Linked DNA regions of Homo sapiens: all the other regions are reported to be linked to region 4. Evidence: microRNA targets listed by miRTarBase, many of them from high-throughput screens and not tested one by one. Region 4 holds a microRNA gene; each other region holds the end of a gene's coding sequence.

Region 1 (5,000 bases), not on the chromosome of region 4:
ATCTGTAGGTGTCTGCTTAGCAACAAAAGGAAAGGCAGTTTCTTGCATGACTCAGCTTTCAGCTTAATTTTTTCCTTTTGACAGAGCAAATTGGGATCCTGAATTTTTATTTTTCTTTGACAACAGAAATCAACACAGATCTCTTTTAGTTACCTAATTCTTGATGGACATCAGGATGTTGACCACTTTTAGTAATATTTAATATATATCTTATTTGTTCCATTTATCCCCCGAGTATTGTAGCCACATTTAAAGTGAAAATTTCCTGTGTCAAATTAACTTTTCCAATATTTTTTGTCCATTTTTTCCATGTCTGCTTGAATTGAATTCGCTCCAGGTTTCCATTAACTTTGGACCATGCTTCAAGTATCCTCCGAAGGATCTCACTTACCGCCCTGTGAGTAACATTACAAATGGCTGCATGTGTCCTCAGCATCTCCGTGGCTGCTGTAGTCACCGTGTTCTGTTTCTCATTCCTCCTGCAGATGAGTGACATGGGCTGGGGCGCCGTGGTAGAGCACACCCTGGCTGACGTCTTGTATCACGTGGAGACAGAAGTGGATGGGAGGCGCAGTCCCCCATGGGAACCCTGACCAGGTCCCTCTTTTCTGTCAAGGACTTTCTGGGAATAATACTGGGGGTTTTGTTTTTGTTTTTGAACTGTCTCAAATGTTCTCCCAAAGATGCTAAAAACACAGCCTCTCCTTTTAGCAAGTTAAAAGGCTGGGTAGGACTGCGGGAGACTGCCTGCCTTTCACCATTTTCTCCCCACTTCCAGTGACTGCTCTTATTTTGTGTACCATAAGCCAACAACCGCTGACTCCAGGATTGCATAAGCCCCCTGTGAAATCGGTGCTGTACTGCATACCCTGCCAGCTGTGACTTGTTATCCTACTATATTTTCTAAGGAGTGAATAATATTGTCCGAGTAACTAACTTATTTAAAAGACATTTCCTTCTGTGGGCATTGACTGTATCCCACCTGTTTTCCAAGGAAATGGTAACCTGTTTCTGAGAACACCTGAAATCAATGGCTATACATTCCAAACCAATCTAAACGCTATTTCCTTTTGGTGTGGGTTTGGTTTTGTTCATTTTGAAATACACTTTTGAACACTGAGATCCGTAAAACTACTAGATCTCTGGAAGTGTAATTGTGAAAGAAACTTGCTTGCAGCTTTAACAAAATGAGAAACTTCCCAAATAAAACTTGTTTTGAAGTTTATGTGACACTTTGCTTCCCTTCAGATTGGGTGCCTCTTGGTGACAGTGTTCAGAAATGTAAGCAGCACGAGGAAGGGAGCTGGCACTGGGAGGAAGAGCCGGGTTTCTGAGTTGTGTTTTGGCTGCTTTCCTATTGCTCCCATTCTTGCCAATCAGCCACCCCCTTTCCTGTGAAAATCTGCCACCTTGAGGAGAGGAACAAGAGTTTAAAAGGGCTAATGATCTCCCTCCCGGTCTTCCCTTGGAACATGGATGTTGATATATGTGCGGGTGGTTTCCTGTCTTGCTTATCTTCCTTTGCCCTGAGCTGATGGCTAAAGGGCAGTTTTCGGACTATTAAAGACTGAAATGTAAGAATGAGCCTTCTAGGCTGGGCGCGGTGGCTCACGCCTGTAATCCCAACACTTTGGGAGGCCGAGGCAGGTGGATCACGAGGTCAGGGGTTCGAGACCAGCCTGACCAACATGGTGAAACCCTGTCTCTACTAAAAATACAAAAATTAGCCGGGCGTGGTGGCGGGCACCTGTAATCCCAGGTACTCAGGAGGCTGAGGCAGGAGAATTGCTTGAACCCGGGAGGCGGAGGTTGCAGTGAGCTGAGATCGTGCCACTGCACTCCAGGCTGGGCGACAGAGCAAGACTCTGTCTCAAAAAAAAAAAAAAAAAAAAGAATGAGGCTTCTAGGCACTGTGGCTCACACCTATAATCCCAGCATTTTGAGACATCAAAGCAGAAAGATTGCTCAAGACCAGGAGTTCAAGACCAGCCTGGGCAACATAGCAAGATCCCTTCTCAGTAAAAAAATTAGCCAGACGTGATGACACATGCCAGTAGTCCCAGCTACTCTGGAGGCTTAGGTGGGAGGATCCCTTGGGCCCAGGAGTTCGAGGCTGCAGTGAGCCATGTTTGCACCACAGCACTCCAGCTTGGGCGACAGAGCAAGACCCTGTGTCCAAAAACAAAAAACCCTTTCCTTTTGGATTCATATATAATTTCCTTATCTTCCTTTTTCTTTTCTTTCTTTTTCTTTTTCTTTTTTTTTTTTTTTTTTTTGAGATGGAGTCTTGCTCTGTCACTCAGGCTGGAGTGCAGTGGCGCAATCTTGGCTCACCGCAACCTCCGCCTCCTGGGTTCAAGCAATTCTCCTGCCTCAGCCTCCTGAGTAGGTGGGACTACAGGCACGTGCCAACACACCTGGTTAATTTTTTTTCGTATTTTTAGTAGAGACGGGGTTTCATTGTGTTAGCCAGGATGATCTCGATCTCCTGACCTCATGATCTGCCCACCTCGGCTTCCCAAAGTGCTGGGATTACAGGCATGAGCCACCACACCCGGCCTGTCTTCCTTTTTTCAATACATCAGTCTTACGGCAAAGACAGCCCTCCCAGGATTGCCCAAAGTCCCTCCTGCATTTACCTCTCTACCTCGGTTAATAAGTAGAGTGGCTCACCACTGGAGGGTGACATGCTGCTGCAGAATCACCATGTTATGCCTGTGGCTCTTCTGAATATCTTATCATTTTCCTGTTTAAGAGAGTTCCCACACTTCAAGACAATATTGGTATTTTAACATAGTAGCATTGATTAATATATTTGTCTCCCGATGAATCACCCAGACACTTTGATTTGGCCACTGCATATCTCTGAACAGGAAAGCCTATACAGGTCGAGTGTGATTGGAGGCTGAGGCTCAGCCCTAGACACCTATTAATGCGTGAACTAGTCTTCAAGGGCAGACCTGGTTATAAAGCTTCTAGATCATCGGAGTTTGAGGTACTCCAAGAAAATGAGGGTGGTGTTATTTAGAGGAAGCTGAATGTTAACTCTTTGTAATATAAATTACCACATATAAGTTGTATACACACTCTCCATCTAAATTATAAAATTAGCTTTTTGTATATATTTTCACAAATCAAAGGTTACAGGTAATGATGTTCTTCTCAAACTTCAAAAGTGTGTGTGTGTTTTAATACAGTTCATTTGAAGGGCTCAGAGAATATCTACTCTTCACAGCGTCCTATATAAAATAGTTTCTGTAATCAGATCAACAGTGATAACTTGTTTTATTCCAGTGTAAAATTAAACAAGTGGGAAAATATCTCCACAGAAACCAGAAAGACACAATTACATAGTTTGAAGGAGGCAATTAGAATCCAGCAAACCAGTGGGTTTGTTAAAAGCCTATTTCTTGACTGTCAGCCTGTTCTCTTGAAACTACAATATATGTTGCTTTAAGGTATCTTTAAACAAGTAACTATTTTCTCTTAGCTGGTAGTGGATGATAATTCCATTTTAGAAATACTTCTCTACAACTATCCTCTCTCAACTCTGAGGCTCCTAGATAAACAATAATTTTATCCATGTCAAAAATAAACTAAGAAACAATCCGAATAAATTATAATAAATACCTTTACTAGTTGTAAAATTTTAATACCTCAGGAAATACCACAGTGTTCCCACTAATGCTATTTTTTAATTTTTTAATTTAGTTTGTCATAATTTGGTTTCATCAACTCCTTTGTTTTTTCCTTCTTTTTTTTTTTTTGAGATGAGGTCTCACTATCTTGCCCAGACTGGTTTCGAATTGCCCTCCAGCAATTCTCCCACCTCAGCCTTCAGAGTAGCTGGCATTGTGGGTAGGCACCACTGTGCCCAGCTCCTGTTTTATAATAAATAAGCCAGAGCTCTATCTCCAAATGGTGCAAATCATCAATGCTATTAAAACAAGAATGGAAAAGCTTCAGGTGGTAATGGTGATTTTTTCATCCTCCCTACCCCCCTCCCATCCCAATGTGTGTGTGTGTGTGTGTGTGTGTGTGTGTGTGTGTATAATTTTTTTTTTTTTTTTAAGACAGCCTCGCTCTGTCGCCCAGGCTGGAGTACAGTGGCTCGATCTTGGCTCACTTCAACCTCCGCCTCCCGGGTTCAGGCGATTCTCCTGCCTCAGCCTCCCAAGTAGCTGGGATTACAGGCATGCACCACCACGCCCAGCTCATTTTGTATTTTTAGTAGAGATGGGGTTTCTCCATGTTAGTCAGGCTGGTCTCCTGCCCTCAGGTGATTGCCTGCCTTGGCCTCCCAAAGTGCTGAGATTACAGGCGGGAGCCACCTCACATAAATTCTCTTGACTCCTGGGAAAGGGAATTTGCTTTCACCATATTACCCCTTCTTCCAGCCACTTCTCCCAGAATACTAAACTTTTAGCCTGTTTAAGCAGAGAAGTTGCCAGCCCCAAACAAAGTTGACAGCTGTGGAATTATCTTACTACTAATTGGCATCATAAATAACAGAAATGTTAACTAATATTGTTTATCCTCTCATATTTGGCACTGCCTTTCCTTTTAATTAGGTAAATAAACAGTTATAATCTTCATCTTCCAGGGCCCATTAATCAGCTATTGCTTATAGAATTCTTTAAGAACTCATTTAGGTTATGATTATGGAAATTAAATTTTTATGAAAGATCCTGGTAACAGAGTCTAAATTATTGAATTGCATAATTTCCCAGTAGTTCCTTTCCTTTTAATGAGCCTTAATTTAGTTTGACTAATTAAAAGCTTTGTCCAGAACTCCTCTAGTGTGAAGTTGTAATCTACTAGCATAGATTTTTTTTTTTTTTTTTTTGAGATGGAGTCTCACTCTGTCGCCCACGCTGGAGCGCAGTGGCACAATCTCGGCCCACTACAACCTCCGCCTCCGGGGTTCAAGTGATTCCCCTGCCTCAGCCTCCCAAGTAGCTACGACTACAGGTTTGCGCCACCACACCCAGCTAATTTTT
Region 2 (5,125 bases), not on the chromosome of region 4:
CTTTCCAGTTCTCTATCTTTTGTAATTTCTTGTTAATATCTGGCCAACTGTTAGTGACAAAATGAAGTTTTAACATTCCCTGCCCAAGAGGATCCTTGAGACCTAGACCAGTGTATTTTCTCATTTGTTCCTTTAATCTATCTAAAAATTCTATAGGCCCTTCATCTTTCCCTTGCTGTATATCAAATATTCGGGTAAGATACTGAGTTCGGGGTACCAATTTTTTTTTTTTTTTTGAGATGGAGCCTTGCTCTGTTGCTCAGGCTAGAGTGCTGGAGTGCAGTGGCGTGATCTCGGCTCACTGCAAGCTCCGCCTTCTGGGTTCACGCCATTCTCCTGCCTCAGCCTCCTGAGTAGCTGGGACTAAAGGCGCCTGCCACTATGCCCAGCTAATTTTTTTGTATTTTTTAGTAGAGACGGGGTTTCACTGTGTTGGCCAGGATGGTCTCGATCTCCTGACCTTGTGATCTGCCTGCCTCGGCCTCCCAAAGTGCTGGGATTACAGGCGTGAGCCACTGCGCCCAGCCTCGGGGTACTGATGCTTTAATCCCCTTTATTATCAATTCCTTAAGGTCCTGCATATTTTCTCGGTGGGCTGCGTTGTTATTGTCCCACTGGGGGTCTTGGGTGGGAGTTTTTTGATCTGCTGTAGGAACGTTTTGGCCAGGAGGGTGTTCGTGTTCCTAGGCTCCCATAGCAGCTCTATGGATCATGTCTCTTTCTTCCCCCGAGAAGAGGGGAAAGGGAAATTCTGAATATCTTTTTTACATTGCTCTATCTCACGTTGAAGTCCTTTAAGGGAAAGGTACTTAGGTCGGTAGTGAGTGGGCTCTTGGGACGATTCTCAAGAGGCAGGGTTGTAAGAAAGGGGACATCAGAGATAGGAGAAGGGTCTGGGACAGCAGCTGCTTTTGTTTTTGGTCCTTTCATTATCCTTCTAACATTTTAACATTAGGCCTGGGGGAATATTACTGTTGCTAGCTTTCTCCTTTTTATCTCTTACCTTACTTGGGGCATTTCCCATCTTGGGTCCTGGTTAAGCTCAATCTCCCCTGTTGGAGATGTCTCGCCTATCCTTTAGCCCCACCTGCTGGAGGCTCCTTGCATTCATGCACACTTTCAACCCCCAGAATATCCTGACCACCAAGGAAATACTTTGTCACCCCTGCGATGTTTCTTAGCTTGGTCTCTGCACACTTACTTGGTCGCTGTGGTACATGAGGATCCTTTCCCCCAGGTCGCCAGCCCGTTTCTTTCTGCCTTGCTGAGAGTATAGGTTTATTCGTCACACTGGTTGGTCTCGATTCCTTACCCCTGTGGCCACCGCAACAAGGCAGTGGGACGTGCCTCCTCATGGGAGAGGTCTAGACCCTCCTCAGAGGAGGATGGGAATCCCAAATGAGACCCCAAATTTGTTAGAAATAAATTTTCAGTGCCACAAAAGAAATAGCACTCAAACATACATTTTCTCAGCAAGGCAATTTTACTTCTATACAAGAGTGCGTCTCATGGATGGTGCAATGGCGAGAGCACACCGGAACAAGGGAGGGGAATGGGTTCTTATCCCTGATGCAGGTACCCCCTACTGCTGTGTTGTTCCCCTATGGGCTAGGGTTGGACCGCACAATCTAAGCTAATTCTGACTGGCTATTTTAAAGAGAGCAGGGGTATAAGCCAGAGTGGTGGGGTGAGAAGTTTAGACAGGAAAGATGGTTACGGACCAGGTGACTAAAGGTGACTCAGGTCAGAGCAGGTGACAGAGGCTAGGAGGGGATTGTTTACTGAAACTAGGGGCAAGGAGACATAAAGAATGAGGAAATTAAAAGTTAAAATGAAGAACAAAGAACAGGTGAGCTGAACATACTGATACATTGGTTCTTTGGAGAGGATCTCAGAACTCAATGTACTTAACAAATTACAGGCTAAAACCTTTGAAGAAGAATTTATGATATCCTACATTATCATGGGGTAAACAATTCGTCCCTGACAGAATAAGGCTACTGGAGTTCTCTTCTTGTAACTCTGGGAAGGACTAGAGGGAACTGTGTCTGCAGTGGGGCCAGGTAGTTAAAAAGTCTGGACTGGGCCGAGCGTGGTGGCTCATGCCTGTAATCCCAACACTTTAGGAGGCCAAGACAGGTGGATCACCTGAGGTCAGGAGTTCGAGACCAGCCTGGCCAATGTGGTGAAACCCTGTCTCTACTAAAAATACAAAAATTAGCTGGGCGTGGTGGCAGGCGCTTGTAATCCCAGCTACTTGGGAGGTTGAGGGAAGAGAATTGTTTAGACCCGGGAGGCAGAAGTTGCAGTGAGCCGACATCGTGCCATTGCACTCCAGCCTGGGTGACAAGAGCGAAATCCATTGCAAAAAAAAAAAAAAAGAAAAAGAAAAAGTCTGGACCAAGCCAAGAGGGGAAGAGGACGTCCCCATGAAAGAGCTTTGGATCCAGAAAGCCCGGGTTCTTGGAATTCTTTTTCTCTTTTCACTTTTGTTGTAGCATACTTTGTTCTTTTTTATTTTTTATTTTTTTGAGATGGGGTGTGGGGGCTTTACTGTGGGTCTTGCTTTGTCACCTAGGCTGGAGTACAGTGGCTCGGTCTCTGCTCACTGCAACCTCCACCTCCCAGGTTCAAGCAATTCTCCTGCCTCAGCTTCCCAAGTAGCTGGGATGACAGGCATGCTCCACCATGCCCAGCTAATTTTTTTTACCGTTAGTAGAGACAAGGTTTTGCTATGTTGGCCAGGCTGGTCTCGAATTCCTGAGCTCAGGTGATCGGCCCACTTTGGCCTCCCAAAGTGCTGGGATTACAGGTGTAAGCAACTGTACCCAGCGCATGTTTTATTTTAATTTAATTTAATTAACTTATTTTTTGAGATGGAGTTTCCCTCTTGTTACCTAGGCTGGAGTGCAATGGCGCAATCTCGGCTCACTGCAACCTCTGCCTCCCGGGTTTAAGTGATTCTCCTGCCTCAGCCTCTCCAGTAGCTGGGATTATAGACATGTGCTACCACGCCTGGCTAGTTTTGTATTTTTAGTAGAGATAGGGTTTCTCCATGTTGGTCAGGCTGGTCTCAAACTCCTGACCTCAGGTGATCCACCTGCCTGGGCCTCCCAGAGTGCTGGGATTGTCCTTGGAATTCTGAGTGGATACATGAAGAGTTAGTAAGAACCAGTGAAAAAGCAATCACTTATGATCCTGGGCTTTGAAAAATCACTGTGATTATCTTATGCACTTACAAATGAGACTAAGACGCCTGATGGGAAAGTGCAGATTGCTGGTGAGGAAGGGCAATGAAGAAGAGACTAGGAACCAAATTCATCATCATTATCACACAAAGGCATTTGGAAATGTCACCTTACACATGGTGAGCACATATGGGTGCCAGCCCGAGACAGCAGGATAAGTTTCACAAAACTTGACCAGGCAGGTTAGAAGCAAGGCATGGTTCAGGATGGCAGAGGGCAGGGAGACAGAAGGGAGTAGGATGGGAGAGAAGAGCCAGCTGGAAGATGAGTCAGGGGGTGCAACTGGGGAGAGCAGCTCTGAATCCTGCTTCTCAGTGAGAAAGTTGCTAAGATGGCTTTGCAGGGAGCTGTCCTATCGCTGCTCGAGATCAGCCTGCTGGGCCTATGATGATAAGCAGGGCTGACCCTCTTGGGCTCTGTAGCTAAGCCCAAACCCTGCTGAAAATGGGGCGGGGAGGTTGAGGCAGTGTGTGGCAAGTGACACAGACGGGGACTCCCAGCTGGGGGTCCCTGGAATTACTTGACATCCCACAGCTGGTGTCTTCAGCAGTCATCTGGGGCAACAATCCCACCTGCCCATTGTGGTTGTTGAGGATATCAGAGCTTTTGTTTTAAAGCGCTTGCCACAAACTCTTAAGATGCGGATGGGTTTCCCCTGTGAAGCACTCCACAGGCGGGATGCAGGCCCATCTGAGGAGGGGCTTGGAAGGAAGAGGAGCACTTGAGACGGGGCAGAACTGGGCTGGCCTGGGGCTCAGCGACAGCTCCATTGCAGACAAACTGGGCTGGGGAAGGCAGCTCCCACCTGGCAGAGGATGCCCTTCTGCCCCCTGACAGGAGGGAGGAGACCACCGCATCCCCGACTTTCAGCCCTCACGTGCCATCTGGTGGCTTTGCTGCAGACACTGCCATGATCTGAGTGGTCTTTGGCAATCACGCATTGGCGGGAGTGTGAGGTTGCGGGGAAAGAGGGACTGACCATGGGCCTAGGTGGGGAGGCCTGGCCACTGTGCCCACAGCTTAGGAAGGGACAGTCAGAGCTCCTCTTTGTTGCTATCGACGGACTGAGCCAGAGGCCCTGGAGCCAGGGGGGAACCTAGTGGCTCTTGGTCGCCAAGCTGCTGGCTGCTGTCCTCCAGGCGCCTGCCTGTGGGGGCATAGTCCCGCAGGAGCCTGCTCTCCACTCTGTGCTGCCAAAGGCTCTCGGTACTCACGAGTCCCTGCATCCTCAGGTACCCCTGCTGGCAAAAGGGTGGCAACTTCTGGCGCGTGAGGGCGAACAGGAAGCAGGACTCTACACAAAAGCAAAATGAGGAGAATGAGCCAGGCTGGGACATGTGGGGAGGGGTGCAGAAAGGGGAGCTGCCAATGCCAGGTGTGGGGGCTTCACTGCAGGCCTTGCCTGGTATCTTCCATCCCTTGAAACTGGGAGCTGACCTTTCTGGGCATCTCACGTCCAACCTGAGTAGGTCATGAATCATGACCCTCCACGAGGCTCCAGGGCAGGGGGCTGCCTTGACACTCTGGAAGAACAAGGCTCCAAAATAAAAGCAAACCACAGCAATGCCTCAGCTCCCAGACATCAGGGCTGAGCACCGGGCTCTGCAGGCAACCACACTGGGGGCGGGGCTCCGACCTTCATGAGCAGACCCTCGGCCTGGTGCGGCTGGGAACTCAGTGGTCAGTTCCACTGTGAGCTCAGATCTGCCTGCAAAGACGCAGTCCCTCAACAACATTTGAGTTGCAAATACCATGTGCAAAGTTCTGATCTAAACAGTGTGGGGGATAAAGAAAAACGGGTATATCCTCATCTGTCCCACAACAGAAAGCTGGTGCATGAATCAAATTTGGTCAATCATAAGATAGCTGTGGATACT
Region 3 (5,104 bases), not on the chromosome of region 4:
TTTTGAGATGGAGTCTCGCACTGTCACCCGGGCTGGAGTGCAATGGCTCGATCTCGGCTCACTGCAACCTCCACCTCCCCAGTTCACACGATTCTCCTGCCTCAGCCTCCCAAGTAGCTGGGATTACAGGTGCACACCACCGCACCTGGCTAATTTTTGTATTTTTAGTAGAGACCGAGTTTCGCCATGTTGGCCAGGCTGGTCTCGAACTCTTGACCTCAGGTGATCTGCCCGCCTCAGCCACCCAAAGTGTTGGGATTACAGGCATGAGCCACTGCGCCCGGCCAATTTTTTTTTATGTTTTGTAGAGACGGGGTTTCGCCATGTTACCCAGACTGGTCTTGAACTCCTGACCTCAAGCAATCTGCTCGTCTTAGCCTCCCAAAGTGCTGGGATTACAGCTGTGAGCCACCGTGCCTGGCCTTTTATTGTTTGTTTTTGAGACGGAGTCTCACTCTGTTGCCCAGGCTGAAGTGCAGTGGTGTGATCTTGGCTCACTGCAACCTCTGCCTCCTGGGTTCAAGCGATTCTCCTGCCTCAGCCTCCTGAGTAGCTGGGCTTACAGGCACCCACCACCATGCCCGGCTAATCTTTGTATTTTTAGTAGAGACGGGGTTTCACCATCTTGGCCAGGCTGGTGTGATCATGGCTCATTGCAACCTTGAATTCCTGGGCACAAGTGATCCTCCTGCCTTAGCCTCCCCAGTAGAGCTGGGACTACAGGTATGCGCCACCACACCTGGCTAATTTTTTTAATTTTAATTTTTGTAGAGATGGGGGGGCAGGTCTCACTATGTTGCCCAGGCTGTTCTCGAACTCCTGGCCACAAGCCATCCTCCCACCTTAGTCTCCCAATGCGCCGGAATTACAGGTGGCTCAGGTGTGAGCCACCGTGCCTGGCTTTTCTCCACTATCTTGAAATCAGATGGGAGGAGGCTTTTTTCTGGGTGGGACTGAGGAGGCACACTGAAGTCCCCCAGGTCATCGGGGCTGGGCCATTGCCTTTTTCCCCACCCTGGGTAGTCGTGGACAGAAGCTTGGGATGGGATGGAGAGGAGAGATCGTGCTGTGTGTCATGTCTGTTGTTCAAGTAAATAAAAGTTGCCCTGACTTCATTCCTGAAGGTCTGGTCTGTGATTCACTCCTGCCTCCCATCGCTGGAGTTTCAGCTTTTGATTGGCCTGAATTTACCATCCTGGCACTCCGGGCTCCTGCCTGCCCATCCCTGCCCCACCTGCTCTGTGCAGCAGGGTATCCTGTGCTTGGAAAGGTGACCTTGGGGGTGTCCTGGATCGTGGGGTGACCATGAGGGAAACCCTAGAGTGGAAAGATTTTCACATCGCTGATCAAGGGAGGATGGAAGCTGATCTGAAGTGGTGGTGGTGGGGTGACCCTGAGGGAAACGCTGAGCCTGAGGGGTGACATGTGGCGATAACCAGGATCTGAGGGTCTTGAGCTAGTGACATTTGGGGGCAACTTGGACCTACGGGATTACTCAGGCCTCAGGGGAAGATTTGGGGTGCCTGGTATCTGAGAATGCTGGAGGGGAACTTGGGTTTGAGGGATGTGACATGAAGGAAACCCCAGTTCTTAAGGGGGGACATTTGGATGTGGCTGGGACCTGCGTGACGCCCCAGGAACATGGGAACATTCGTGGGTGACACCTGAGGGGCACAGTAAAGGGTCCCCCAGGTCCGAAGGCGGCAGGGACCACAAGGGGTGCACTCCGGGCTCTCCACCCACCTCCACCGTCCCAGACCTCGAGGCGGCGCCACGGAGCGCGCGGGGCAGTCCCGGGTCCGCCCGCACATACCTGCTGGAATACGCGCGGCGGGGCAGGAGGTGGGGCCGTCTCCGATTGGCCCACTCGAGCGGAGGGGCGGTGCGAAAAGCCAATCCCCATGCACAGCGCCGCCAAAGTCCCGCCCCCGACTGCGGGCCCCGCCCTCTAGCGACGGGCCCTGCCGCTCCGGGAAGCCTCTGTCCTCTCCTGCCCCGGCTCTGGCAGTGACCCAGACACAGCATCTCCATTCATCCAAAAGGCAGGAAGGCCCCGAGGAAACTGCTTCTCGGGGAGCCAGGGACGTTTAGACAACCACGGGCTTTCTCGCCGTCCTTTGGATCCCATCCCTCACTCTATTTGACGACTGGGAGCCTCTTCAGTGGCGCAAGATCCCAGACACGCCCTGGCCACGTCCCCTGGCGAGTGTCCACGCACAGACCACCCCCACTCCGTTTTTCTTCTCTTGGCCAGAGCCCCGCCCACCGAGGTCGAGTCTAAACCCGGGGTTCCCGCTTTTGATCGGGGTGTCTTCCCCATCCAGCTGCACCAACACCTGCCACAGCCTCCCATGCTCAGCAATTTGGAGACAAGGACCCCCAACATTGGTGTCTGGAGCCAGGGCGCCCCCCACCCCCATCTTGGCCCTTCCTAGGGGCTCAAGGACCCTGCAGTCAGGGGTGGGCAGGGGTCAGTGGCCCCAACCAGGTCCTAAATCAAACGTCCTAGCTAGGTGCCCTTCCCCCCTGCCCCCCACCCACGGAGTCTCGCTCTGTCGCCCAGGCTGGAGTGCAGTGGGGCGATCTCGGCTCACTGCAAGCTCCACCTCCAGGGTTCACGCCATTCTCCTGCCTCAGCCTCCCTAGTAGCTGGGACTACAGGCGCCCGTCACCACGCCTGGCTAATTTTTTGTTATATCTTTAGTAGAGACGGGGTTTTACCGTGTTAGTCAGGATGGTCTCAATCTCCTGACCTCGTGATCCGCCCGCCTCGGCCTCCCAAAGTGCTGGGATTACAGACGTGAGCCACCGCGCCCGGCCGCTGGGTGCCCTTTCTTTCCACTTTGCAACCTCAGTTTTCTCATCTGTAAAATGGAAAAGATAATCCTACCAACTCATAGGGCTGTGGTGACGATTAAATGACAGCGGTAACGCATTCAGCCCTGTGTTCCCTCATGGTGAGCTGTCCATCTCTGTTTTGAAATATTTACATAAGGCCGGGTGCGGTGGCTCACGCCTGTAATCCCAGCACTTTGGGAGGCTGAGGCGGGCAGACCACCTGAGGTCAGGTGTTCGAGACCAGCCTGGCCAACATGGTGAAACCCCGTCTCTACTAAAAAATACAAAAATTAGCCCGGTGTGGTGGCGCATGCCTGTAATCCCAGCTACTTGGGAGGCTGAGCCAGGAGAATCGCTTGAACCCGGGAGGTGGAGGTTGGAGTGAGCCCAGATCGCGCTACTGCACTCCAGCCTGGGCAACAGAGAAAGACCAAAAAAAAAAAAAGGGAAATATTTACATAATTACCATGGAATGAAGCCAGCAGTCGCTCCCATCCCACCCCTCGCTTGGCGCTGCACCCAGAAATAAGGCCAGACATTTTTTTTTTTTTTTTTTTTTTTTGCGGAGGAAACGAGGTTGAGGGTGTGAGTGGCTCTGGAGATGCACCCCAGTCTCAAAATAAAATTAAAAAGAAAAATTTCTGTTCAATCTTTGAAAAAAAAAAAGGAAAAGGACATGTAATACACCGTTCAATAAATAGAAAAAAAGTTACAAAATGATGTGGTATTTTGTCCTTAATATACAAGAAGGGAAAAGATGTGGGGGTGACTTGGGGGGGTGATGTTCTCCCTTCTCCTCCCTGGGTCAAGGTGGGGGAAAGGAAGGATGGCCAAAGAGAGAGGGCGGCAGGGACTTAGGTGCAGAGAGAAAGGCAGGTAAGTGCCGGGAAAAATGGAAACAGAGTAAGATGAAGGGGCGAAGCAGAAAGACAGGAGGCGAAAGGGTGAAAAAGCCAGAAAAACACCAAGATACAGGTCTCTTTCCTTTCCAGATCGGGGGTGGGGGTCTCCGGCTCTCTCGCGTCTGTGTCCCCCAACCCCAGGTTGGAAGGGGCAGTGTGAGCCTCGCTCAGTTCCTGAGTTGTACGTCCAGTGACTAGCAGGTGAGAAGAGAGGGCAGCGAGGACTTCCCCAACCCTGAGCCCACCCTGGGACCCTAGTGCCCAAGGAAATGGGGGTCCTGGCCGGATAGGATAAGGGGGTGAGGTATGAGGCTGAGGCCTGAGGCCTCTTCAATTCCTTCAGTGGGGGTGAGCCAATGGTCCTGGCTGGGCAGCCACTTTGGAGGTGGCATAATGGGGGGCCCTGAGCAGTAGGGGGTGGGGGAGGACCCTTGGCCACCCAGGGTGGGGTTGGGGGAAAATGTGCTACATTGACTTAGAGGGTCGATTTCTGGAAAGTCCTGCCTCCCAGCCTCCCTCCTGGAGCCCAAGCCAGTCTGGGTAAGGGGAGTTTGCCTATTGCTTTTGGGGTGCCCAAAGTGGGGTCATACCAGCAGCCCAAGCACACACCCCTTCCAGGCTTCTGGGTGGCAGTATGGCTTCTGCTTCTGGAGTCTTGCACACTTGCTCACAGACTCCCAGGCACACACGTGGCAGGATGCTGCTCCCCCTGCCCCCATCTCCAGCCGGGCTCCTTCCCTGACTTAATAATACTGAAATGCCACGTGGGCCTAATTGGAGAGCAAGGGTGGGGGACGCAGGGGCGAGGGGGATCCCCACTCCCACGCACCCCACTGTCCCTCAACCAAAACGCTCCCGCACCAAAAGCATGAGTTTCTTCTTGCCCTTGTAGGTCTGTTTGAGGTTCTCCAAGAACTGTGAGAACTGGAGGTGCCCGTCGGGCGCCAGCAGGAAGGTCTCCCGGGCCTTGCCCAGGAATTCGATGAAATCCCCATAGTGCCGCGGGCTGATGTGCGTGAGGCGCGAGTGGCTGGTGGTGATGTAGGCGGTGACTGCCGCGTCCAGGAGCTGGCAGAGCGGCGCCCGGTCGGCACCCAGTGGCTTGGCGGCCCGGCGTGCCCCTAAGGGGCCCAGACCGGGCGCCGAGAGAGTCCAGCGGCGCAGAATATCGGACAGCATTGGGGCACAGTGGATGCTGCGAATGATGAGGGGGACGATGGCAGAGAGCTCGTGCCGGCCCAGGGAGTGGCTGAGAGAGCAGGCCCAAAGCACGTCGTTGACGGCAGGGTGGCTGTCCTGGTTGAAGGCGATGCTGAGCTGCGCCAGGGCCAGCGTCGCCAGCTTGTAGGCCCGGAGCGGCAGCC
Region 4 (5,125 bases):
TACCCAGTTACAACTGACTTGGCAAGTGGGAAACTACAGTTCTCTCCCTGCTTCAGCTGTTTGTTTTTTTGAGACGGAGTCTCCTCTGTCGCCCAGGCTGGAGTGCAGTGGCTCGATCTTGGCTCACTGCAACCTCCGCCTCCTGGGTTCAAGCAATTCTTCTGCCTCAGCCTCCCGAGTAGCTGGAATTACAGGCACCCACCCAACACACCCAGCTATTTTTTGTATTTTTAGTAGAGACGGGGTTTCACCATGTTGGACAGGCTGGTCTTGAACTCCTGACCTCAGGTGATCCATCCGCCTCAGCCTCCCAAAGGGCTGGGACTACAGATGTGAGCCACAGCGCCTGGCCTGCTAACCAGCAGTTTGAAAACCTCTTTTACAGTCCAATATTTCCTTGGGTATCTAAATCTCACCTTCCCCACACCCTTTTTGTCTGCTCCAGGTCCCCTGGCCTCTGCCACCTCTTTCTTTCCCTCAAGCAGAGGAGGTCGCTGGAAGAGGAACCAGACCCCACACTTCTTGTGACCTGCTTGCCTGGGGTTTGCATTGTCTGCCACCCCTCACTCACTGGCGGGTTCTCTTGTCCCAGTTTCAGCTTTTCCTAGTGTTTCTTTTCTGTTTGGGACTGAAAATATTTATCAAGTCAACAGATATCTTTGTGTTGTTCTTAACAGTCAATAGCCATGTTTTCTTAAAGTTCTTTAAGTATGTATGTTTTCTTGTTTTAAGGAGAATGTTAGACTTATTTTTATTATTCTTATAGTCAGCGCGGGTATATTAGATAGGACAAGCATGGCGATAAGTGAACAAATAAATGAATCAGGTCAGGTGCGGTGGCTCACGCCTGTCATCCCAGCACTTTGGGAGGCCGACTGGGGCAGATCACCTGAGGTCAGGAGTTTGAGACCAGCCTGGCCAACATGGCAAAACCCCATCTCTACTAAAAATACAAAAATTAGCAGGGCATGATGGCACGCACCTGTAGTACCAGCTACTCGGGAGGCTGAGCCAGGAGAGTCGTTTCAACCTGGGAGGCAGAGGTTGCAGTGAGTTGAGATCGCACCACTGCACTCCAACCTGGGCAATAAGAGCAAAACTCTATCTCAAAAGAAATAATCAATATGAGGTTTATGTTTCTTAGTCATTATTCCTGTTCATGGCCTGACTCAGAGGCCTGGGGCAGTCGGAAAGCAGGAACTCAAGAAGCCTTTCTTGGACATGGCATCAATGCATAAATAATAATACTTATAATAATAAGTAATTGGTACTGTTCTTAGCATTTTACATATATTAACTCATTTATCTTGGCAACAACCCCACGTTGAAGATTCTATTAATGTATCCACTTTATCGATGAGGAGACAGGCTTAGAAAGGTAAAGTAGTTTGCTCAGTATCTGCAACTACAGTGCCTGGCAACTAGAAGCACCCCACTGGGTGCTCGTCCTGGCGTTTATGGCTTCTCATAAGAGAATCCCAAAGGGGAGAAGATCAGCCTGCATTTAGCAGTCCACATCTGCAGGCTGATCTTCTTCTCTTTTGGATTCTATCTCTTGCTGCTCTGATGACAAACTCTTCCAGTAGCCCAGTAGCCAGGCCATCCCCTCACTTACTATATCCACCCTATCTCTGCCTCTTGAAGCCTGACCCATCCTTCAGGGCCTTGCTCTGATGTGACTTTTACCATGAAGCCATCCCTGATCCCCCACCAAGATGGAACGACTCTCTCCCGCCTCTCTGTTCCCCAGGCAATTTGTTGGAATCTGGGTGGCAGCTAGCACCACAGTCTGCCATATTATCACTCTTTGTTCTGTGTGTGTGTGTGTGTGCACGCATGCCTGCACGCACCTGGCTTCCGTGCAAAGCCATAAGTCTTCATCGTGTTTGTGTGTGTGTGTGTGTGTGTGTGTGTGTGTGTGCATGTGCCTGAATGCACCTGGCTTCTGTACTAAGCCATACGCTTCCTGAGGGCAAGGCTTTGTCTCTGGGAATCTCTTGCAAGGAACAGGCCCACAATGAATGCTGCTGAAACAGGGAGAATGGATTGAGTCTTACTGGGAATCACCAGGGCAAGTAAATACACATATTAAAAAATAAGTATGCTGGTCCCTCAACCCCACATCCTTGGCTTTCCTGGGGACTGGAGTTTGGAACAAGGATTCAGCCTTTGACAAATGTCTAGGACTCTGTCTGCAAGGTGGGGCCGCTTGGCCAGTGGTGGAGCCACACTCCCCAGGGACCTTGTGGTCCTCTCCACTCCGGAGCCCCTCCCCGCCGAACCCCTCAACTCTGGCTGCCCCCTGCACTGAAGCGCTCAGGACCCTCCACCTCAGCAAAGCTGAGGATCCAGTCACACGGGAATGGGGTGTATGGGGAAACTGGAGCCCCCCACCCCCTTCAGGCTTCAGGTTCTGCCCTGATTATGCCTCCAATATGACTCCCAGGGAAGGCAGGGGTTGGGGGGGGGATGTGGAGACTAAGGAGGACGGGGAAGCGAGGTAGCAGAGAGGAGGGCAAAGGCAGCAGAAATAAAGGTGTGCGTGGCGGGAGGTGGCGGGGCTCGACCTCGGGCCGCTCTGGACGCCCGGCAGTGCCAGGCAGGGCCCGGGTCTGGGCGGTGGAGGACAACTTCTGCCAGCAGCCCGCCGCGAGTCCTGTCCGCCTCCCGCGCGCTGCGGTGCCCAGCCCCGCGCCAGCCCTCCCGGGGGAGCTGGAGCTTGGCCGCGCTGCTCCCCCCTGGGGCCGCTCCGGCGCCCACACCCCCCACGCCCACCGACCGGCCTCCTCACCTTCGGGACCTGGGAGTCACCGGCCGGCGGGGCCCTGGGTCCGGGCCGGGCTGGGTGGGGGCGGCGCTCTTCCCCCCACGCTAGCTGCGCCCGGGGATCTGCAGCGCCCGCCCCGGCTGCGGCGCCATCAGCTGCTGGGAGGCTGCGGGGCAGTCGGGCCGGGGCTCCGGGGGGCTCGGGGGCGCCGAAGGGGGGTCGGGGGCGGGCTCGAGGCGTAAACACCCAGCAACGTGACCGGAACTGGCGAACGAGCCGGAGGGGTGCGGGGGGCGGGAGAGAGAAAGGGGGAGGGGAGGGACCTGAGACGGGCGGGGAGGGGCCGTGGGCGGGGCGGGGGGAGGGGAGGCCGGCGGCGCGCGGTCGGGGGGAGGGGGAACCCCGGGAGCCCCGAGAGCCCCGGGAACCGGGCCTGAGGCCCCCAGCGGGCCGCTGGGCTCGCGGAGCTGGCTTTGGCTGGTAGCTGGAAGGGCAAACTGGGGAACCCGCCGGTGCCTTGGCGCGCAGGGGCGCGGCGAAGGATCAGCACCGCGGACAGCGCCCAGGCCGCCAGGCCGCGATCCGCTCCGCCCCTCCCGCCCTGGCGTAGGAAGGAGAGGCAGCGCCCGCAGCCGCGCAGGCAAGGCTTGGGGCGAAGCGCGATCTGACCAGTGGGCTGGGAATCCGTCCCGTGTCTAGGCAGCAGCAAACCTGCCCCAGACCTCTCACTAGCTGTGTGGCCTTGGGTGAGTCACATCACCTCTCTGGGCCGCAGTTGATAAGATGCCCTATTTCTAAAATTCTTTTATTATTATTATTATGCTTTAAGTTCTATGAGGGTCCCAAGAGCCAAGGGAAGATTCTTGATAAACTCCAAAGTTCAGGCCGGGCGCAGTGGCTCACGCCTGTGAGGCCAGCAGTTTGGGAGGCCGAGGCGGGCGGATCACCTGAAGTCAGGAGTTCGAGACCAGCCTGGCCAACATGGTGTATGTATCCCAATCTCTACTAAAACTACAAAAATTAGCCGGGAGTGGCGGGCGCCTCTAATCCCAGCTACTCGGAAGGCTGAGGCAGGAGAATCGCTTGAACCTGGGAGGCAGAGGTTGCAGTGGCCAAGATCGTGCCACCGCACTCCAGCCTGTGTGACAGAGCGAGACTCTATGTCAAAAACAAATAAACAAAAAAACTCCAAAGTTCAGAACACGTGCGAGGCATTGCTGTTGATCCGTTTTCACCAAACGTGGGAGGCTTCAGGAGTCCCACTGTGTGCCTCAAAAGTGTGGCTGCCCTAATATCTTCCTCCTGCCGGGGGCTTGGTCTCATCTGTAAATGAGGATAATGATGATCTATGTAGCTCATAAGATCTTCGGGTTGTTGTGAGGATTAAATGAATTCCTTCCTGTAAAGTGCTCAGAACAGTACTGCTGAGTGCTTGTTAGGCCTCTGTGCTCATGACAAGGGATGAGGTAGCATTGTGTGAGTGGCAGGTGGCTCAGAGATTGCTCTGGGTAAGTCATTCCTGTCCCTGCCTGGAGGACTGGGCTGAGTGGATTCAGGCTAATGGGTTGGTGCCTGGCTTTCCCCACTCCATGGCTAGCCAAATAATCCCTGGCCTTTCCTCCTGGACCAAATTTTCAGAGAAGCCCTGTACCTTCAGAGCTGGGAGACCCGGCACCTACTTGCCACAGAGGCCCTGGGGAGGCCTCAAGGGGCACCCTGCCTCTCTATGGGTCCCTTTCCTCCCTGTCCTCCCCACTTTCCAAAGGTTAACTGGACTCAGGTGTCAACAACTAAAAAGCTTTAGCTGCTCCTGGAAAATTCTAATCCTAAAGAGTTGCAGGGGCCAGGCTCAGTGGCTCACGGCTCTAATCCCAGCATTTTCGGAGGCTGAGGTGGGTGGATCATGAGGTTAGGAATTCAAGACCAGCCTGACCAAGATGATAAAACCCTGTCTTTACTAAAAATACAAAAATTAGTCGGGCGTGGTGGCAGGTGCCTGTAATCCCAGCTACTCAGGAGGCTGAAGCAGGAGAACCGCTTGAACCTGGGCGGCAGAGGTTGCGGTCAGCCAAGATCACACCACTGCACTCCAGCCTGGGTGATAGAGTGGGACTCCATCTCAAAACAAACAAACAAACAAACAAACAAACAGAGAGTTGCAGGAATGACTGTCTTAGGTGGCTTGACAGGCTGCGGGGTTTGAATTTTGTTCAAAGGCCTCTCAAATCCCACCCTGCAGGAACTCTAGCTACTAGCTGCACTGTGGGTGGCCCCTCTTCATCCTGTCTGAGGAAATCCTTGGGAGAGGAACAGAAAGGCCAGCCTCACCCCTCTTCCTGTCTCTTGCTGTCCTTCCTA
Region 5 (5,112 bases), not on the chromosome of region 4:
TACCCATGCTGTCTACGGCAAGCTGCTCCTCTTCGAGTATCGTCACCGCAAGATGAAGCCAGTGCAGATGGTGCCAGCCATCAGCCAGAACTGGACATTCCATGGTCCCGGGGCCACCGGCCAGGCTGCTGCCAACTGGATCGCCGGCTTTGGCCGTGGGCCCATGCCACCAACCCTGCTGGGTATCCGGCAGAATGGGCATGCAGCCAGCCGGCGGCTACTGGGCATGGACGAGGTCAAGGGTGAAAAGCAGCTGGGCCGCATGTTCTACGCGATCACACTGCTCTTTCTGCTCCTCTGGTCACCCTACATCGTGGCCTGCTACTGGCGAGTGTTTGTGAAAGCCTGTGCTGTGCCCCACCGCTACCTGGCCACTGCTGTTTGGATGAGCTTCGCCCAGGCTGCCGTCAACCCAATTGTCTGCTTCCTGCTCAACAAGGACCTCAAGAAGTGCCTGAGGACTCACGCCCCCTGCTGGGGCACAGGAGGTGCCCCGGCTCCCAGAGAACCCTACTGTGTCATGTGAAGCAGGCTGGTAGGCAGACAGGCAGAGAGAAGGTCATGGCCACCGTGATGGGGCCAACAGCAAGGGAGGGGTAGGGGCCCATACAGGAGTCCTCCTTTCTGAGCTCCAGCCCCAGCCCCTCGAACCACCTGTAATCTAGGCACCTTTGCCAACACCTCCCAAGGATGGAGGACTGGGCGAGGGACTGGGAAAGAGGCATATTTAGTTTTGTGGGGCCTGTCTCCGCTGCCTCCTTCTCCACTTCTACAATCTCATTCTCTCTCTCTCTCTCTCTGTCTCTCTCTCTCTCTCTCTCTCTCTCTCAGAAGTGACAATTCAGAAAAAGAAAAGAACACTGAGAATGCAGGTTTTTCTACTAACAGCTGAGGAGACAGGCTTTCTTACTTTAATGTCTCTCCTTCTGACACTGTCCAGAAGGGGGAATTTGTCCTGTAAAATAGACTTCCAGAGCTCTTTTGCCCCCTCTGCTCCCATGCACCCTCCCCTTCCAAGTCCTTTAGCAAGGCCTGGATGTTTAGGGAGAAAGTGGTCCAAGGCTGCTGACAAGAGGGACCAAAGGGGGTGCTGGGTTCCCAGGGAGCAGGGATGTTTAATTACTATGTCATGTGCAATGTTGTTTTAGGCCAACCCTTGCCCCAAGCCCAGTCTCTTCTCCCTCCCCACCATGTCCAGACCTCCCAAATGGTTCTTGTGCATCTGTTGGAGAAGTCAAGGGAGTAGGGAGAAGGGCCCCAAGGATGGGCCCAGGTTAGGTGAAGAGTAAGATGTGAGCTGAACTCCTCGAACTGAAGAGACCCACACTTGGTCACATTCTCTCACGCTGCCTTCAGGATCCCCAGCCCCCAACTCTTCTTCCTGAGGATGGAAATCCACTCCAGCCCCACTAGGACTGATGTGGGTGCCATACAGGCAGGAGCAGCCCACCAGGAAAGTGTAAGGAGGGAGCTGAACTCCCCAGAGTAGCTGGACCACAGAGACTTGGGTCAGAGCTGATTTCAACCCCAGAATTGTCTCTCGGGTTCACCCTACTCTTCTGAAGATGAAAATTTGTTTGGGGCCTTGGTAACCGATAGCGGTACAAACTCCAAGGCACTGTGGACTTGAGTCCATTCCTATCTGACCTCTTTTTGTCCCCCTCAAGCCTCAGGGGCCTCAAGCCCCTCCTTAGTAGCCCTTGGCTGACTGGGCCCTGAGCCCCAAGCATCCTTCTTTCCCAACAACCCTCCTTCCCCATCCTTCCCCCACCCTTACCTACACCCAAAGTGGAGCACACTGCAGTCAGATTCTCCAGGAGGGAGATCCAAGCCTCCTCCCAGGGGTGGAGTCCACTCTGGGCTTACTTTGAGGCCTGTTCTGTGGATTGGTGAGCCAAGCTGGCACTCCTTGCCCTGGTCTTACCCAGGCTCTCTGTCCCCCTCTCACTTCCTGTGGGGCCGGAATCTGTATTTATCCATCCCCCTTTCCCTTCTTTATAGAAGTCCCTGTCCTAAACTCCCTCCCTAGCCCAAGAGAGCCCCAGAACTGGGGAAGCCTGACCCATACAGAATGGGGAGGGCACTCTAGGCAGGAGAGACATTAATGAGCCTGGCTGCAGAGTGGCCCTGGAAAGGCAGGCCAGAGTGGCTGAGAGGCTGGGAGTAGGGGAGCCTGTTCTCTCAGCGATAGTGATGGGGGTGCCTTTCCGAGGGGGTGGGGTGGGAAGACCAAGGGGGTGGGGGGTAGATAGGGTACATTTAGGAGGGTTTTCCTCCATTTCTTTTTTCTAACTGCCTGGATTCACCATTGGATTTTGTAAATGGAAAAACTGAAATGAACAATGCTATACTGGATGTTTTCTCTTTCTGACTGTGTGTGTGTGTGTGCGTGCGTGCGTGCATGTGCCCTGTCTGACCACATGTGGAGAGACATGATTGAGTGATAGTGTGTGTCTGTGTGACTTTGTGTGGGGAGGCACTCCTGAAGAAAACTTGCCCGGTGCACACACGTAAAATGCCTGTATATGGGGACAGATACAGCACGTGCATGCATACACACACACACACACACACCACAGTTGAGAGGAGACAAACTAGAGTATGTGCCCGTGGTAGGAAGTCGAGTGGTCAAGAGATGGATCTTGGAAACTACATAGGTCGGTAGCAAGAGGGTAGACTCCCATCTCACAAGATGGGCCTCCCTTGGCCCAGGCCCTGAGCACGGGAGGGCTGGGGCCGCCAGGGAACTTGAAAACCTCATCTCCTCACAAAGCCTGTAGCCCCATCTCAACCCCGTCTCAGTCTCCTTCCCAAACTCAAACAAGGTGTTCCTAAAATTGGACCACCATGGAGAATGGGGACTGGGAATTGAGGATCAAATGTGAGGGAAACTGATGAGGTTAGGAAATGCCCCCCACAAAGTAATGGCTTCTGGAGGGACTGCTCAGTCTGGGATGGGAGCCCTTCCTAGGGGCCACTGTATGCAGCTGGGACTTTGGTCAGCTTTGACCAAATTTAGAGGGAGGGATGTCATGGGGAAAAAAAACCCAAGCCCAGGAGTCTACCCAGCCAGCCTGCTCCCTAGACAGTTAATTTACTATCTGGTTATTCTCTCAGGTGCACAGAATTGAGTTGACCATACTCCTCAGTTCTTGGCACACTATATCATCATTGGTCCATGTGAGGCCCTTTTATTTTTTTTTCTTCAGTTTTGTCCCCTTCATCACCCATTCCTGATCCCATCCTCCCCGCCCCCTACACAGGCACCCACTCTCGTGTATTTAACGTACGTCCTTCCAATCCACCGTTCATGTGTTTATTTACATATATGTGTATCTGTGAAAAATGTATGGTATTGCTGTGTGTTTTAATTTACATAAACAGTATTGTACTATAAATCTTGTTGTTTCTTTTTTCACTCAACATTCTGTCTTTGAGAGATCCAGCCATGTTGCCGTATATAGATCTAATTCATTCTAGTGGTCCATCTAAAACATATATCACATTTTTCTTATCCACTCCCCTGATGATGGATCCCTAGGTCTCCTCTCTGCTCCGCGACAAGGCTGCAATGGGCAGTTACCTACACCTCTCTTGAGGGATGCCTAATTTAGGGGAGAGAAAACTGAAGCTCAGAGAGGGGCAGTGATTTGGTTAAGGTTACAAAATGAGGGGCACACCCATGATGTGAATCCCAGCACCAAAGCCAGCCCTCCACCACCATGCCTCACAAAAGACCATCCATCTCTGGTTTAAAAAGAAAAATCTTAAAATACAGCATACACTGGGGAAAGGGAGAGGAAAGGATGGAAAGGGGGAGAAATGAAGAGACAGAAAGTGCTAGAAAATTCTAGCAGATGAGCTGAATCACAATCATTTTTATGACGCAGAGGAAGTTACTTTTTTGTGTGTGTGATTATTATTTGTAGAGCCATTTTGCGGAGATGGAAAACGCCACGTCAAAACCTGGCCCCCAAACCAAACACCCTGGGTGCCTAAATTGCAGGCGCAGGCGGTAGGGCAGCCCGAGCCCCCGAGGAGCTACAGCAGAGTTCACCCAGGGGGCAAACGTGGGGGGTGGGGGAAGGGGCAGAAGTGGAAGGTAGGAAAAGAGGCAGAAGCGGGGGGGCGGGGGGCAGGGGTTGTGTGAGGGAAGGGGCAGAAGTTGGGGGATAGGGGAAGGGCAGAAGCGGAGGGCGGGAGGGTGAGGGAAGGGGCAGAAGTGGGGTTGGGGGGTGAAGGAAGGGGCAGAAGTTGGGGGATAGGGGAAGGGGCAGAAGTGGGGGTGAGGGAAGAGACAGTTGGGGGATGGGGGTCAGAAGCAGGGAATGCGGGAAGGGGCAGAAGGGGGGGTGAGGGAAGGGGCAGAAGCGGGGGAGGAAGGGGCAGAAGCGGGGGGTGAAGGGGCAGAAGCGGGGGTGGGGTGGGGGAAGGGGCCGAAGCGGGGGATGGGGGAAGGGGCAGAAACGGGGGGTGGGGGAAGGGACAGAAACGGGGAGTGGAGGAAGGGGCAGAAGCGGGGATGGAAAAAGGGGCAGCAGTGGGGGATGGGAGAAGGGGCAGAAGCGGGGGTGGGAGAAGGGGCAGGAGCTGGGATGGGGGAAGGGGCAGGACCCGGGATGGGGGAAGGGGCAGAAGCGGGGGTGGGGGAAGGAGCTGAAGGAAATGGGGGAAGGGGCAGATTTTAAAAGTGCGTAGTTGCTGAGGGGAGGGGGGCGGGGGGAACGATAACGAGGCTCTTCCAATTTCATGTGAGCACATCCTGCTCAGCGCCTGCGTTTGTTTTTCGTCTCGTTTTTTGGTCTTCAGAACCACTGGTACTTTTCCCATTGGATAAAACGCTGAGAGGGTGAGGGAGAGGGGCTTCTTCCCCAGCTTTCCTCGCAGCCAATCGCCCTGCAGTTTCCCTCCCGTCGCTGAGGGAGTCAGCCCGTTGATTGGCGGGCCCGAGGGGAGCCAATCGGAAACTGATGATGTGTGGTGTTGGCAAGCGGATTGCGTGAGAGCGGGCAGGGGTCGCGGGAGCGCGATCGCCGCCGCGGCGGCCGGCAGCCAATGGCCAGGCCGAGCGGACCCCTGCGTCAGGAGTGGGCGGGGCTTCGGCGATTGGCG

What was found. The annotated mature microRNA hsa-miR-1253 reads AGAGAAGAAGAUCAGCCUGCA and lies in region 4 at 1,520-1,540, opposite strand. An mRNA with a match to its seed (bases 2 to 7 or 8) in the 3' UTR can be bound and repressed. Matches are read on the target gene's strand: a 7mer-m8 pairs with bases 2 to 8, a 7mer-A1 pairs with bases 2 to 7 and ends in A, and an 8mer does both.
Region 1: the mRNA of ASH2L is a reported target of hsa-miR-1253. The part of its 3' UTR that is shown has no 7-base or 8-base seed match.
Region 2: miRTarBase lists FOXRED2 as a target of hsa-miR-1253. Seed matches in the 3' UTR shown: 7mer-m8 at 3,494-3,500 and 7mer-A1 at 1,689-1,695.
Region 3: miRTarBase lists ZSWIM4 as a target of hsa-miR-1253. Seed matches in the 3' UTR shown: 8mer at 3,943-3,950.
Region 5: miRTarBase lists GPR173 as a target of hsa-miR-1253. Seed matches in the 3' UTR shown: 7mer-m8 at 1,174-1,180.

The regions. Positions count from the first base shown.
Region 1 is chr8:38,138,479-38,143,478 of GRCh38, forward strand. It overlaps ASH2L (ASH2 like, histone lysine methyltransferase complex subunit), which reads left to right. Exons shown (of 16, transcript NM_004674.5): 15 at 338-397; 16 at 486-1,602. The coding sequence ends at 593. STAR (steroidogenic acute regulatory protein) reads right to left here. Exons shown (of 7, transcript NM_000349.3): 7 at 4,222-5,000. Among named protein-coding and RNA genes, the nearest start is that of STAR, 10 kb to the right of the region's middle. RefSeq lists a silencer at 1-7.
Region 2 is chr22:36,485,726-36,490,850 of GRCh38, forward strand. FOXRED2 (FAD dependent oxidoreductase domain containing 2) reads right to left here. Exons shown (of 9, transcript NM_001102371.2): 9 at 1,465-4,542. The coding sequence ends at 4,283. Among named protein-coding and RNA genes, the nearest start is that of TXN2, 6.6 kb to the left of the region's middle.
Region 3 is chr19:13,830,527-13,835,630 of GRCh38, reverse strand. ZSWIM4 (zinc finger SWIM-type containing 4) reads right to left here. Exons shown (of 14, transcript NM_001367834.3): 14 at 3,377-5,104. The coding sequence ends at 4,581. It overlaps MIR23AHG (miR-23a/27a/24-2 cluster host gene), which reads left to right. Exons shown (of 1, transcript NR_036515.2): 1 at 1-1,115. Among named protein-coding and RNA genes, the nearest start is that of MIR24-2, 3.3 kb to the left of the region's middle. RefSeq lists a silencer at 1,758-1,947 and enhancers at 2,058-2,107, 2,158-2,207.
Region 4 is chr17:2,746,620-2,751,744 of GRCh38, forward strand. It overlaps MIR1253 (microRNA 1253), which reads right to left and starts at 1,563; the gene lies at 1,459-1,563. It overlaps CCDC92B (coiled-coil domain containing 92B), which reads right to left and starts at 3,033. Exons shown (of 4, transcript NM_001355573.2): 1 at 2,792-3,033. RefSeq lists a silencer at 3,223-3,412.
Region 5 is chrX:53,077,218-53,082,329 of GRCh38, forward strand. GPR173 (G protein-coupled receptor 173) reads left to right here. Exons shown (of 2, transcript NM_018969.6): 2 at 1-3,398. The coding sequence ends at 526. Among named protein-coding and RNA genes, the nearest start is that of TSPYL2, 2.6 kb to the right of the region's middle. RefSeq lists an enhancer at 373-432 and a silencer at 5,015-5,112.